Regions from separate parts of the Homo sapiens genome. Here all the other regions are linked to region 2. The links come from fine-mapping of genetic effects on gene expression. A gene starts in region 2. Each other region holds a variant in brackets. All regions are shown on one strand. Distances are from middle to middle. Region 1 overlaps CACNA1H (calcium voltage-gated channel subunit alpha1 H). Region 2 holds the start of CACNA1H (calcium voltage-gated channel subunit alpha1 H). Region 3 overlaps CACNA1H (calcium voltage-gated channel subunit alpha1 H).

Region 1 (4,908 bases), 43 kb before region 2:
GCTGGGCGGAGCCATGATGGGGGGTGGGGGCGGGAGACAGCATGGTGGACGGAGCCATGACGGGGACAGCAGTGGCGGGGCGGGTGACTGCACGGTGGGCAGAGCCACGTGGGGCGGTGGAGCCACATGGTGCGTTATCTGCATGGTGGGCAGGGCCATCTGGGCAGGGGCCTCACGGGGGTGGGGCCTGGGCACCTGACAAAGGCACTGTCCAGGAAGCAGCGGTTCCGCAGGAGGCCAGCCCAGAGCTGGACGCCAACGATGCCGAAAATGAAGAAGACGAAGAAGCACAGCAGAAGGACGTTCCCGAGCATGGGCAGCGTATCCAGCAGCAGAGTGACCAGGATCCGCATGCCTGTGGGCAGCAGGGCCAGGATTGGCACTGCTAAGCCCTGCAGGAGTGTCCTCGGGGCTGCAGCCCCTCCCGGGACCCCCGAGCCCCGTCCACTGTTCACAGTGGGTGTCCACGCCCACTGCACACTGACTCGGGCCACCCCCTGGTGATTTTCCCGCACCCCTAGTGTGATCGGGACTCCCCTCCTACCACCACCGGCCTCCAGGGACACTGACACCCTGGGGTCTGACGTGCATCCAGCGGGGCGCCAGGTCTCCACCTCCAACCATCCCAGGGCAGCAGGTCTGCTGCTTTTGGAGGGCTGGGGTGTGGAGGGGCAGGAGTGGAGGCAGGGGACTGGCCGAGGCAGGGAACTGGCTGCGGCAGGTCTGACCACGTGGCATCTCGGGCTCGGGATGACCAGGCGGAGCCCAGTGGCCCTCGAGGCTTGTCTGGCGACACCCTGAAGTTGCCACCAAGGCAGCAGGAGCCTTGGGAGCCCCAGAACCTCAGGTGGTGGGCTGCCTCCTGGGGGTCTCTGCAGCAGGTCTGGGATCCTGAAAACTTTGTCTGATTCCCAGTGAGAATCCTGCCAGAACAGAGCCCCATCTCAGAGAGAGGCTGCTGGAGGCGGTGGGGAGGACCGGCAGCGGCTTTTCAGGAGGTAGCACTGAAGCCATCGGTCCTGGGTGCTATGGGCTACGTGAACTCCAGATTAATCCAGCAAGTGGGTCAGCCAAGCCCCACGCGCCCCTCGCTCCATCCTGGGCCTGCTCCCCCAAGACGTCCTTTCCCTCAAATTTAATCAAGGGCCAGGCTAAGGCAGCAGGTAAAGCCCTGGGCCAGGAACCTGGGGACGCTGAGTTCTCACCCAGCACCCAGGGGTATCAATGGCAAAACGGGCCCCTCAGGTCACAAGGGTGAGTCAGAGCCAGGAGGAGCACTGAAGTGTCAAAAGAGCCGACCGGAGCAGACAATCAGTGAGCACTGCCCTGGCCAGACCGCAACCGCCTCAAAGATCACAGATGACCCAGAGGTCAGAGTGGACCCCTAGCCAACAGAACAGGATGCAGCCCTGAGCGTGTCCTCATTATGAGAAGCGTATTATCCAGTCTGGAAGAGTTCCCTAGTTCTCTCCTAGAGACAGGAGCAGATCCCCAGGAGGCCAGGCTGCTGGCGACAATTAGGGCCACTCTGGCAATTTAACCTGAAAAGTAAACATCCATGGAAGGAAGGGGCTGTGTGTGCTGGGTTGCTTCACGCTTCAACAGGTGGGGCCAGGCCGGCGTGCAGACTGAACGTACAGTGGGTGCCGGGCAAAGGGCCAAGAGCCACACACGCGTCCCCTCACCGCACGCTCAGCCACCCTTGGGGTCATGGTTACTCCTGTACTGCACTATTCCAGGAGAAACTGAGGTTCAGGCTCAGCTAGTTGCTCAGAGTCACACAGTATTCAAGCCCTATCTGAGCCACACAGTAGAGCCAAGGCAGGCAGGTGGAAGGCAGGCTCAGGGACCAGCGGCACGAGGATGACCCACCTGCCCTTCGGGAAGCCAGAGGCCCCATGGGAAGGAGTGCCTAGCCTTGGGGGTCTGTGACTTTGGGGGGTTGCTGCAGGTCAAGCCCTGAGTGCCAAGGCCACCAGGACCCAGGTCAGGCAGCCAGAAAGGCTGTGTTACACCCGCACGTGCACACACGGGGCCACATCTACACGCAGTATGCACTCGCGCCTGGTACGGCCTCGTGGGGGCCGCGCCGACCCCCAGGAACCAGAGCAGTTGAATGTAGCCCTGAGTGCTTAAAGAACGATCCCACCCCATCCCCTGATGCAGGTGGGTGGCCCGGATTTGACAGGATGTTTCCCAAACAAGCAGGCATATGACTTCCT[G/T]GAAGCTCTTCCTCCGCCTCCCCTCACACCCAGCGCACAGCAGACACACAGCAGCTCCTCTCCACCAGGCCCCCTCCTCACACCTGCTGGCCAAATCCTGAAGGATTTCCAGCCTTCCTTCTAGAAAATCAGCTGCTCAGCAGGGGACACGGAGGCCCAGCCCTGGCCAGCCAACTTCCCCTTTCCTTAGGTGGGGATCCTGGCAGGAGAGTAGGGGCCAGAAGCAGTGGCGGGTGGGGAGAGCGAGGTGTCCTCAGGACAGGTGTCAGGCTCTCCCCTCACTTGTGTGGGTGTGAAGGCGGGGCTTCACAGAGCCCCCAGGTGAGCTGAGCCACACCCACAAGAGTGTCTCCACCACGAGCCACACCAGGATGCGCCAGACAGCAAAGCCACCAGGGATCTGCTCGGCCTCCAGCCTTGCCCCAGATGCCATGCAGAGAAGGAACCGGAGGTTCGGAGTGGCCCCTGTCACTCGGCTGTGTGGGAGCCAGGTACCCTGTGAATGCTGACTGCCCACCACACCGCAGCTTGATTCTCCCCTGACATGCAAGGCCCACGGATAGCGGCAGGGGCCACCCCACTGCTGGGGTCTGGGCTGGGGCCGGAGTGCCTGGTAACCTTCATTTCCCAGTCCTGTGCTCCTGGGGGCCCTTTTGAGAGCTCTGCAGGGCTGGCGGACACGCAAGCCTGTTGATCTCAAGCCCAGTCGGGGCCGGTCACTTACTAGGCACGCGGTTGATGGCGCGGAGGGGCCGCAGCACCCGCACGGTCCTGATAGCCGAGAGGCTCACGTTGTGTCCGTCCAACGAGTACTCCATCATGCTGGGGGCGGGGCCGAGGGGGAGCAGCTCAACAAGGAGCCCAGGTGGTCCAGGGTGGGGCTGGGGTGCAAAGTAGGGTGGGCAGGCATAGAACCGGCCAGCCCGGCACCCGGAGGACCTTGTACTGGCCAGGAAGGGCCCCGAGGTAGCAGGAGCACAACGCTTGGTCACATCAGGAGGCCACCTCCCTCACCTGTGCCCAGGAGGGAGGGTCTCCGGAGTCCCAGACAGGGTCCCTGGCTCTACCTGGATCCCTCTAGAACACACCTCCCATTTTTCTTTACAGGTGGGACACAGGGATCCCTGTGGGGTGGGCGGGGCCCCTTCGCCAGCGCTGTGGCCTCTCCCAGGCGGGGCCTACCCCGCCACGACGATGAAGAAATCCAGCCTGTTCCACGTGTCACCCAGGTAACACTTCTGCCCGAACAGCCCCAAGGCCACCATCTTGATGACCATCTCCACCGCAAAAAAGGCGAAAATGAAGGCGTCAAAGGCCTGCGGGAGGAGGCATCAGGAGGGCCCGTGGAACAGCTCAGCTCAGCCCACAACCCCCAACCCCAGCCCCGCAAGAGCCCGGCCCCCAGTCTTGCCACACCCCTCGCCCCGCCCCTGCCCCGCCCTGAGCCCCAGGAACTGAGCCCTGCCTCGCCTTGAACCTCGCCTCTCGCCCTGCCCCACCCCCAGCCCCACCTCGCGCCCCGCCGTGAACCTCGCCCTGATCCCCGACCCTGACCCACTCCACGCCCCACCTTGAACCTTGCCCCGCCCCCGCCCCACTCCGCCTTGAACCATAAACCTCGTAGCGACCCACGCTCCTTCCCCACCCCGACCCACGCCCCTCACCTCCAGGATGTTGCAGCGCTCGGAGCCGCACTCAACGTCCTCACAGGGCCGGAACATGCCCAGGGTCACGCAGTTGAGCATGATTACCAGCATGCTCACGTGCTCGAACCATGTGTCGCCGCGGGTTAAGGAGCACACCGGCGCGGCCCGGGACCCGCTCCCATGGGGCCCTCCAAATGCCCACCCGGTCAGCCGGAGCCCCGCCACGGGTGTGCGCGCGTGGGGGTGTCCAGGATGGGGTGGGGGACTCGGGACCGACGGCCGCCCCTCCTGAAAGCAGCCACCAGGTGGCGCCTGGGGCCTGCGCCTGGCCGGGCTCTGCTCCGTGAGGGTCCCAGGCCCGGCCCCCTGGCCCTCGGCGTTGGCTCATCAGGAAAGCGGGGTGCAGGAGCCCTCGGTGGGCTGGCCGCATCGGTAGTGAGGCCCCAGTGAGGGCCACTCAGACTCCCAGGGCCTAGCTGCCCACATGGGGCCCAGGTTGCATAGGGCTCCCGCGCTGGGGGGCTGTAGGCAGGGCACCCTGTGCAACTGGGAGGGCCCCAGGGCAGGGGGAATGTCGGGGCACCGCCATGCAACCCACCGGACAGGACTCCCCGTCCCACCCTCCAGGCCTGGACGGTGGCACAACTCGGGGCAGACTTTCCAGGGCCCCTGTCCCAGGGCTGCGCGGCCCCACCCTGACCAGGGAACCAGAGGAAGGAGGGAGAGGCAATCCGTCAGCTGACTGTGGACCCAGGAGGGACCTTCCTTAAGGTAGAAGCCGGCATTTGGAAAGCACCAACTTGTCAGCGAACAGCCTTGGGAAGTCAGGCACCAGCTCTGACAGTCCCTGCCGTCACCAACACGTGGGAACCGAGGAGGAGACAGAGCTGGGCATCCTCTCACAGCTGATTCAGGGGCAGCCCGGTGGCCGCCCCCACCCCTGGCTCTGGACTTGGGCCTGTGCTTGACTCTCGGGGGCCGCCCTTCCCAGCACCCACCTGGCGCAGACCACAGGCCTCAGCGCCCACGGCTCCCCCTCA
Region 2 (4,908 bases):
CTCTCAGCCGAGAGGGGACAGGACAGCCAGGCCCGGGGCTGTGAAGAGAGTCCATGCCCTGCTTGGGGATGGGGCAGCCAGGCCCGGGGCTGTGAGGAGAGAGTCCAGGCTTGCTCAACTCTTTCCCTTCTCCGGTCTGCACACGTTGGGAAACAAGGAACGCAGGCCTTGGCTCGGGGCCAGCCTCCCATTCCAACCCATGCAGTCCCTTCCAGACCCTTCCCCATGGCCTGCTGGCACCGCCGGACTAACCCCACACCCAGTCACCTCCTACCAGAACAAAGGGGCATGACCACCTCCCGCCTTGGTTCTAGAGAGGAGACAAACCTACAACCGCTCTTCAAGGCCGGGCCTGCACCTCGGCTCCCGGGGACACCCACCTACTCGCAGACACCACCCTGAGGCTACAGAGGCCTAGGCCGCCCGGGCAGCGGGTGTGGGGCTCCGAGGCAGCCCTCTGGCCGGGGCCGGCTGCCCCCGGGACCACAGCAGCCTCCTCTTCCTCTACAAGCAGAGATGAGTCTGACTCACTCGATGTTTGGATTTGAGAAAGGAGAAACACGGGCTTTATGACTTTTTTTGTACAGATTCCTCTTTCGTGTTTAATATTTGTACAGTTAAACACACAAGGTAGGGAAGTGTACACAGGCCGCTCCTGCTGCCAGCCTGTCTCCCCACCTCCGACGGGGGACGTCTGCGGGCAGGGTCTCTCCACCCGTCCCCAGGCCCGGAGCAGAAGCCACGGCCTGGCCACCCCAGCTGCCGGCTCAGAAGGGCCGGTGGGGAGACCCGGCCCTGACACAGGCACCACGCAAGGCCCTTCTCAGGGCACGCGGAGACCCGCCCCCAAGGCCACCTGCTGGGGGGCCCCCTGGACCTCCGTGTACATCCCACAAATGCCCCTGGCCCTGACCCAACTCTGTTCTGGAACCTTCTCTGCAGTCTGTGCCGCTCTGGCCGAGAGTAGAAGAGGCTGCCTCTTCCTCTCCAGCCAGGGAAGGGGCTGGGGAGATGAGACTCCCCCTTGGCAGTGCCAATTGCCTCCCTGCCCCCTACCCTTCAGCTGCGCATGACTTAAGTCAGCCCCGCCACCGAGTTCAGCCAGAAAAAGCGAGTTCACAACCAACGTCACCGCCTCTCTCCACGGAAAAGGCCCTGGCGGCGCTCACAGGCCCCACGGGTCTCCCCACGCACTCGGAACCACCAGGCGCCGGCTGAAAACTTTGCGCCCCTGACTCCAGCTCCTCTGGCCTCCCCCTCCCCCGCGAGGGGCCTGCCTCGGGCAGGACCTTCAGACAGTGAGGGGTGGGCAAGGGGGAAATTCCCGTCCTGGCCAACACCCTTGGGGCCGCGAGGAGTTAGGACCTTCCCTCCCTCCCCGACTCCTCTCCCCTCCAAGCCCGCGGGGGCCTCACCGCTTCGCTTCCACCTTCTCCGTCCGGAGCCGGCCCTGGGGAAGGGAGTCCGGAGGCGCCCGGTGGCCCCCCAAGCCCGCCACTCTCAGAAATTAGAGCGCGGTCCTCCAGCCCCTGCCCTGCACCCCCGCGCGCCCGGCCCACGCCAGGTCCCACCAACAGGGGCGCGCGGGGGCGCATGCCGAGGGAGTCCCGCGCCCCGGGCCCCCACCCTCCCCACGCCCCCCGCCCCCCGCCCCCCGCCGGCCGGGAAGGATATGGGTTGCAGACCAGCCGGAGGCACCAGCTGCGCGGCCGCGTGGTCTGACCGAGGCAGAAGAAGACCGTGGCCGCCAAGGCCGGGTACGGGACGCGCTGCTCCTCGTCGGCACCCAGCTCCGCGCCGCGCTCGGCCGCCGGGCTCTCGGAGGGTGACACGCCGAGCTCGGACCCCCGCTCCGCCTCGCGTCCCGGCGCCCCGGGGCTCTCCGGGGACGCCCCCACCAACGCCGCAGGGCCAGGGGGCGGCGCGCCCAGGGGCACCCGGACCTCGTCGGCGGCCCGTGCGCCCTCGGTCATGGTGGCGGCCGGCAGCACCTGCAGAGGACAGGGGGTGACCCGGGGCCGGTGGCGACGCCCCCGCCCTGCCTCCCGCGGCGCGGAGCTGCGGGAACAGCCGCGGCCGCCGGGATGTCTTTGTCTTTTCTTATTAGAGACAAACGCGCCCCCCGCCCCCGCCCGCCCCCTCCCTCCCTCCAGCGGCCCCACCCCCACCCCGAGGGGCTCCCCGGCCCGCTTCGCGCAAGTTGAAGAGGGTCCCGGGCGCGCGTCCTCGCCGCGTCTCACCTCGCTCTGCTGGCCGGCGGCGTCCCCGCGGGCATCGCCCGGGCGGCGCGGTCACCGCGGACCCCGCTCGGCGCCCGGCCCCGGCCCCGGCCCCCAGCGCCTCCGCCCCCGGCCCCGGCCCCGGCCCCCAGCGCCTCCGCCCCCGGCCCGCGTCCCCAGCCCGCCCGGCTCCCGGCCGCGGCTCGACTCCGGCTCCGGCTCGCCCGGCGGAGGCGACGGCGGCGGCCTCGGCGCGGCGTGGAGGCCGCTGAGCGGACGGGTGAGGCCGGGGCGCGGGGCGCGGGGCGCGGGGCGCGGGCCGGGGACCGGTGAGGCAGCGAGCGAGCCTCGAGCCCGTCCGCGCGCGGCGCAGGAAACTTCGGGCTGAGCGGCGGGGGGCGGGGCGGGGCGGGGCCGGCGCGACCGGGGCGGGGCCAGCGTGGCCGGGGCGGGGCCGGGGGCGGGGCGGGCGGGGGGGTACTGGGGAGGATCCGCCCCCGGCCCGAGACGCGCGCGCCCGAGCGACCCCTCCCTGTCGCCGCCCGGCGCCCCGCCCCCCCCCGGGTGCGGGAAGTTGGACCCCGCCCGCGCCCCCTCCACGCCCCCGCACTGGGCTCCCCGCTTTTCGTGCTCCCCAACAATGCCGGGCGTGGGGTGCACCAGGGGGCGCTCGCGGGAGGCTCCGGCGGGGTGGGAGGGGGAGCACCTACGTCCTTCCCTGCCCCCAACTGCGGGGGCGGCCGAGCCGCCGATGCCGCGCCCCTCCCCCTCCCGCTCCGGCTCCCCCTCCCCCTTCGCGCTGCCGCGCGCGCCGCCGCCGCCCCCACCCCCACCCCCACTACGACGCGGGCCCGGGTCGGCGGAGGGGCGGGGACCGGGCGGGCGTGGAAGGCGAGAGGCTGCGTGCCCCTTCCCCGCCGCGTGTGTGTCCCGGGTGTGCCCGCGCGCGCGTGTGTGATGGGGCGCGGGGGCGGGCGGGGGTGTGCTTTACGGCTGGGCGCTCCTGCACTCGCATCTCTCCCCGACACGCACGGGCAGTTTCCGCGAACTTGTCCTCGTCTCCGGTCCCCTCCCGCGTGGGGATCTGGGGGACCCTGGGGACGGCAGCCTGGTGCTCCTGCATCCTCCAACCCCGCTGCCTCAGCGAGACTCACCCAGGGGCCCCCGAGGAGAAGTGCAGGCCCCTTCCCCCTGCCAGCAGCTGCTCCTTCAGCCAGGCCAGCAGAAGGGCCTTCCCCTGGACCCTCAGAGCAAGTGGTTTGGTCGGGAAGGGGTGGACCCTTCAGACATTGGGGATGGCCAGGCCCTTGTCCCAGGGAGGGCTGGCCGCACCTCGAGGTGCCAGCAGGTGGGGGCAGGTGCCCAGGCTCCTGACTCCCCCCAGGGCACCCCTCCAGGCTGGAAGGGTGGTTTTGCTTCTGGGACCACTGCTTTGTGCACCAGGGAGCTTGAGCTCCCAGGTGTGCACCTCAGCACGCCCGCCAACAAGGGGCCCCTGGTAGTGGGAGAGACCCCTTCTCCCTCCAGACAAAGAGGCCCTGCTCCAGGGCGCACCCTGAGACCCCAGACCCGGAGAGGCTGTGGGGCGGCTGTGGCTTCCCACCTGCGGGTGAGCAGCAGAGAAGCAGGACCTCCCCCGGGTGGGCCACATCGTGCAGGGTGAAGAAGAGGCCCTGCCCAGCTGGGGCCCGGAAGGACACACAGCACCTGGGGTGGGCCGAGGAACTGGAAGGCAGGAGTGTGGGGGCCTGGCTGGGGTACAGGTCCTTTCAGCAGCACCTCCTCCTGTATACGGGAACTTTCAAGAAAAGGAAAACATTCAGTCTATTTTAATGCAACTACTCAGCGATGGAGGGCCACAGCTGGTGAATTAGGCCTTCAAAGGTCCAATTAAGGTTCCAGCCACAGAGGAGCAGGACCTAGGAGAGCCCCGTGCTTTGGACACATCCGTGGAGGGAGGCTGGAGCAGGTGGGGAGACACAAACGCTGAATCGGAGTCCGGTCCAGAGGGCACTTGGAACCTCTGATCTTTTTATCAACACCCTGCTCGTTAAAAGTTAGGGTGGGCCAGGTGCAGTGGCTCACGCCTGTAATCCCAGCACTTTGGGAGGCCGAGGTGTGTGGATCACTTGAGGTCAGGAGTTCGAGACCAGCCTGACCAACATGGTGAAATCCCGTCTCTACTAAAATACAAAAATTAGCCAGGCATGGTGACATATGCCTGTAATCCCCGCTACTCGGGATGCTGAGGGAGGAGAATCACTTGAACCCAGGAGGCAGAGGTTGCAGTGAGCCGAGATCACGCCACTGCACTCCAGCCTGGGTGACAGAGTGGACTCTGCCTCAAAAAAATAATAAGTTAATTAATTAATTAATTAAAGCTAAGGCAAAGCCACAGACTGAAGCTCCAGATTCTAGCTGGGGGCTGTCGTTGATTTGCTGGACAAATGGTAGTTGAGGGTGGACAGTGCGCGGGGCCCGGTTGGAGGGTGGAGGTGCCTTGGCTGTGACCAGACAGACCCGGTTCTCATGCCTGCAGCTTCCGTCTTATGGGGAGGAGAAAACAGTTTCCAAACTAAGTGCCAGGGGGCGCCCAGATAGACGAGGGCGGGGCCTCTGTGAGGACAAGCCGGCAGCCGGAAGAGGAGCAGAGGCTCTTTCCAGCAGCAACGGCAGCCCATGCAAAGGC
Region 3 (4,068 bases), 55 kb before region 2:
GTGGGGGGCTGTGTCCACTCCACCCCTCCCTGGGGGTCGTGGTGGCCCGGGACGATGGGGTTGGCTGACTCACGGTGCTGCCGGGATCAATGTCAGGCCTCTCCAGGGCGATGGTGACGCAGTTGAGGAAGATGAAGACGAGGACCACGTGATCAAACATCTTGTGTGTGATGACCTTCTGGCAGGAGACGCGGAACCTGGGTGGGCGGGGGCGGGTGAGAGGTGGGGCGGGGCGGCGTGGATGGCAGAGTGGATGGGGGTTGCAGGACAGCCCTGGCCACGCCTCCACTTCAGCCCCGGTCCCTGCGGTGTGAGAAGGGGTGCCCACTCGGAAATATCCACCATGTGCTAGCCCCACCCAGGAGGGACCTGGGGGCGGGGGTCCCGTGGGGTGGAACTAGCCATGCAGCCTCCTGACCCGGCCGCCTCACCGGTTCTGTGGGGAGAAGAGGTAGAGGGCCCAGGCCTCGCGGCTCCGGCACCACTGGGGCTTGTAGGGCTCCAGCACTTTATGCAGGCGGAGGCAGCAGCTCTGTGGGATGAGGCGGCGGCTTCTCAGAGCCTGCGCCTGCCTGCCCGGCCCCCCATCAGGGCCCTCTGTGCTCAGCTCGGCCACCCCTCCCAGCACCTTCTCAGCCTTCTCCATCCTCACTCCTCACCCGCTGGCCTTTGGGCTCTGGCTTTCTGGCCTCTGGGGCCCATACCGTGGAGCCTCCCCCTTCCCTACGCTGGTGACGGCAGAGTGACCCGTGCTGGAGTCCACGGGGCCAGGTGAGCGGGTGCTCTTGGGTCCCTGACTCTGGGAGTGGTCCTTGACCCACGGAAGCCTGAGAGCCTAGCGGATGCCTGGCCCTGCCTCGGCAGCAGCTCTCGGCCAGTGGCTGACCCACGGCGCAGAGCCCAGCCCCCGTATGCAGGCCGTGCGTGGAGCGTTTAGCTCACAGCCCCTAGACGGCAGAGGGGGGACTCTGGGATCATCTGTGGCTGAATCCCTGAACACTGCTGGATTCCTCCCTGGCCTGGCCTGCTTCTCTCCCCTTCTGAATCCCCTCAGTCAACAACACGCCCTGAATCCCATCTCAAACCCCACTTGAGGGAACCTGCCCCAGACAGACGAAGGCGAGTCGGCGGTGGGCCCAGGGCCACGCACTCACGTCCTCCGAGTCGTCGTCAAGCTCGGCTGCATCCTCACGGTGGCTGTCGATGCGCAGGAAGAAGTCGCTGGGCAGGGCCACCACCTGCCCGTCGCGATCGCGGCACTTGGTAGGCGGGAGGGCGGCCGGCCGCAGGGGCCGTGGGTCCAGGGACTCGGCCCGCCGCAGTGGGGTGGCACGGGGCCCGGGCGCGGCCCTGCCGTCCTCAGCTTCGTCGTCGGTGCTGCCCTTGCCCTCGCCAGACAGCAGGGACTCACGTTCCCCACACTGGCCGCGGCGCTTGAGGCTGGGGGCACGGCCCAGGCTGCTCCAGCTGGAGCGCCGGCTGCTCCAGGCGCCACTGGGGCCCCAGGGGGCACAGGGAGAACTTCGGAGGCTGGCCTGGGGGGTGGCGGGAGTCAGTGACCTGGTGGCATCACTATTAGCACCGACCGCTGTCATTACGGAGCACCCACTGTGTGCAAGCCACACGTGGATCATTTAATGCATAGCCCCGCCAGGGAGGCACGGTGGAGGCTGTGATTTTAGGGGGACACCGAGCCAGCCACAGGCGTAGCTCATGAGGGTCAGGGTGTCCGCCTCGCGGGGGTGATGCCCTGGGCTCTGCTGGGTCAGGGGCCAGAACCAGCCCAGGACCAGACAAAGTGTGGGTGGCCCCCGTGTCCCCAGGAGCACACTGGGCCTGCGGCTCTGCCTCACAGCTGCCCCGCTTCCTCCCCTGCTAGGGCGTCTGGCTCACTCCCATCCTCCGTGTCTGTTGTGGGTGGTACTGCCTGGAGTTCGTTTCAAAACTGCTCCCCTCCAGTCCCCCTGGACCCAGAGAGATGCCCTGGCCGTAAAGGGAATCGGGCTGCTTCTGGTGGCAGCGGAACCCCCGCCTGGCCTGCCGTCTGCTTGCCGGGCACGCTTCTGCCCCTGCTTGCTTCGGTCTTTCTGTGCTGTGCGCTGTGCACTCTGCTAGACTGTTGGGCGCACAGAGCTTCCGCGTCTGCCCCTTCACACCGGCCTCACACAACAGCAGCCACAGCTTCCATTTCCGGAAACCAGAACACTCTTTCTCAGTCTCTGCACAGGCTGGGACTTCAAGGGTGTGGGGGGTG[C/T]GGCCCTCACTCATCTTCAGGGAAGGCCATAAGGAGCCAGGCAGGGAAAACCTGAAGGGGCCTGAGAGCTGGGGCAGGAGATGGTCCCTACCGGAGGCTTCTGGTCTCCCAGTGGCGGGTCCCCGGAGCTGCTGCTGCCACGCCGAGAGTCTGGGAGGCTGGGGGCTGCATCCAGGAATGGTGAGCTCTTGGGGGTAGGCATGGGCGTGGCAGCTGTGCACATGATGAGGGGAGGGGACAGGCTGCCTCGTCCCTCCAGGTGCCCGTTGGGGGTCACGGCCAGGGAACACATCTTCAGCTCTGCGGGACAGAGGGAGGAATGGGCCCCTAGAGCTGCCAGGCTCCCAGGACCAGGAATCCCCCAACCTAGGGATTGCCTTATGGGGGCCCTGCCCGGCCAGCCCAGCGTACTCCACCCGCCAGAACCCGGACCACCCACCGACCACACGCACCTGTGGTCTGGAGTTCTCTGAGCTTGTGGAAGTCCTCCTCGAAGTGGACCGACGTCTTGTCCTCGTCCGTGTCGGATCTGTTGGCATCGCCCTAAACCCAACAAAGCACAAGGCAGGCATGAGGGGCCCCGTGAGTGGGGACCCTTCATGCCGGACAGAAGTCTGGGCTGGCCTGGGAGGTGGGGTGTGGACAGAAGGGCCCAGAGGATGATGTCACTGCCAGGGTGGGCAGGTAGGTGAGGAATCTGCCTCTCCCGACCGACCCCTGCCCACTCCGCTGGGCTCCTGGCCTCCCCTCTCCTCATGGCAGCCAGCTTCCCTTCTCTATCCCTCACCTCTTGGCAGGCCCCCCACACCCCTCCCCTCGACCTGAAGCCCGTCTCTCTTCTCATCGCCCTCCTCCTGGCAGCCCCTCTCCCTGCCCCCTCACCTCCGCCTGGAAGCCCTCCACGAGGATGGCCACCAGCAGGTTGAAGAGCACATAGTTGCCGAAGGTCATGAGGGCCACGAAGTAGAGGGCGGCCCAGGAGGAGGTGGAGGCCATGCCGTTGTACAGGACCACGTTCCAGTCCTCCTGGGTCAGGATCTGGGGGATAGCAGGGGGCCTGGGGTGGTCACCCCAGCCCCGAAATGCCGGCAAGTCCTTGGGGCAGAGGCAGCTATGGATGCGCAGGACGGCACCTCCACCTCTCTGGGGACCACACTCAGCACCCAACACTGCTGCGGGGACCCCGGGCACTACCTGGAACACGGTGACGATGGCCCACAGCAGGGAGTCGAAGTTCTTCCTGTCAGGCACGGTGTCTCCGGTGTCTGTCTTCAGGCTGAACTTGCAGCCGAAAAGGTGCATGCCCAGGATGCTGAGGGTGGGGGCAGGGGCGTGTTGAGGGTGGAGGCAGGGGTGTGCTGAGCGGAAGAAGGTGGGGGAGCGGGAGGGGGGTGGGAGGAGGGAGGGGCAGGACTGGCTCTGCCCGTCTTGGCTCTCCTGGCCTCCTACCCTCCCTGGGCGCCCGAGCTCTCTAGCTTAAAAGGGACTTCCTGCCCTACAACTCAGTAGTGTCCATTCCACAGGCGAGAGAACCAAGACCAGAGGCGGGACAGACAGAGGGAAGCCACTCTGGATTTGGGTGGCAACTGGAACCTGGGACACCTGCCTCATTCAGCCTCTCTGGACTGTGAAAGCCCGGCCTGCCTGGCTGCCTAGCCTCCAGCCGACCCTGACCCTGAGCTCCAGGCTAGACGGGCACACAGCAGGCGCTCAGAACACCCCAGTTGGAGCCTGGTGCCTGCCCCCACCCCCGGTATTCTGCTCTTGAGTAAATCCCCAGCTTGTCCACCTGGCGGCCCATCTCTGACCCCTGC

What was found. PIP is the estimated chance that this variant, and not a neighbour inherited with it, causes the effect.
Region 1: its variant is fine-mapped to the expression of CACNA1H in whole blood (TOPMed, PIP above 0.99).
Region 3: its variant is fine-mapped to the expression of CACNA1H in whole blood (TOPMed, PIP above 0.99). The same link has a PIP of 0.9 or more in blood mononuclear cells.

The regions. Positions count from the first base shown.
Region 1 is chr16:1,194,062-1,198,969 of GRCh38, reverse strand. It overlaps CACNA1H (calcium voltage-gated channel subunit alpha1 H), which reads right to left. Exons shown (of 35, transcript NM_021098.3): 3 at 3,887-3,998; 4 at 3,405-3,538; 5 at 2,947-3,044; 6 at 196-355. Among named protein-coding and RNA genes, the nearest start is that of TPSG1, 29 kb to the left of the region's middle. RefSeq lists enhancers at 1-391, 392-951. The variant G/T (reference allele first, on the strand shown) is at 2,223.
Region 2 is chr16:1,150,803-1,155,710 of GRCh38, reverse strand. CACNA1H (calcium voltage-gated channel subunit alpha1 H) reads right to left here and starts at 2,605. Exons shown (of 35, transcript NM_021098.3): 1 at 2,241-2,605; 2 at 1,675-1,991. The coding sequence starts at 1,973. RefSeq lists enhancers at 984-1,751, 3,126-3,706.
Region 3 is chr16:1,206,499-1,210,566 of GRCh38, reverse strand. It overlaps CACNA1H (calcium voltage-gated channel subunit alpha1 H), which reads right to left. Exons shown (of 35, transcript NM_021098.3): 13 at 3,449-3,566; 14 at 3,137-3,292; 15 at 2,707-2,797; 16 at 2,346-2,554; 17 at 1,155-1,535; 18 at 432-532; 19 at 74-197. Among named protein-coding and RNA genes, the nearest start is that of TPSG1, 17 kb to the left of the region's middle. The variant C/T (reference allele first, on the strand shown) is at 2,255.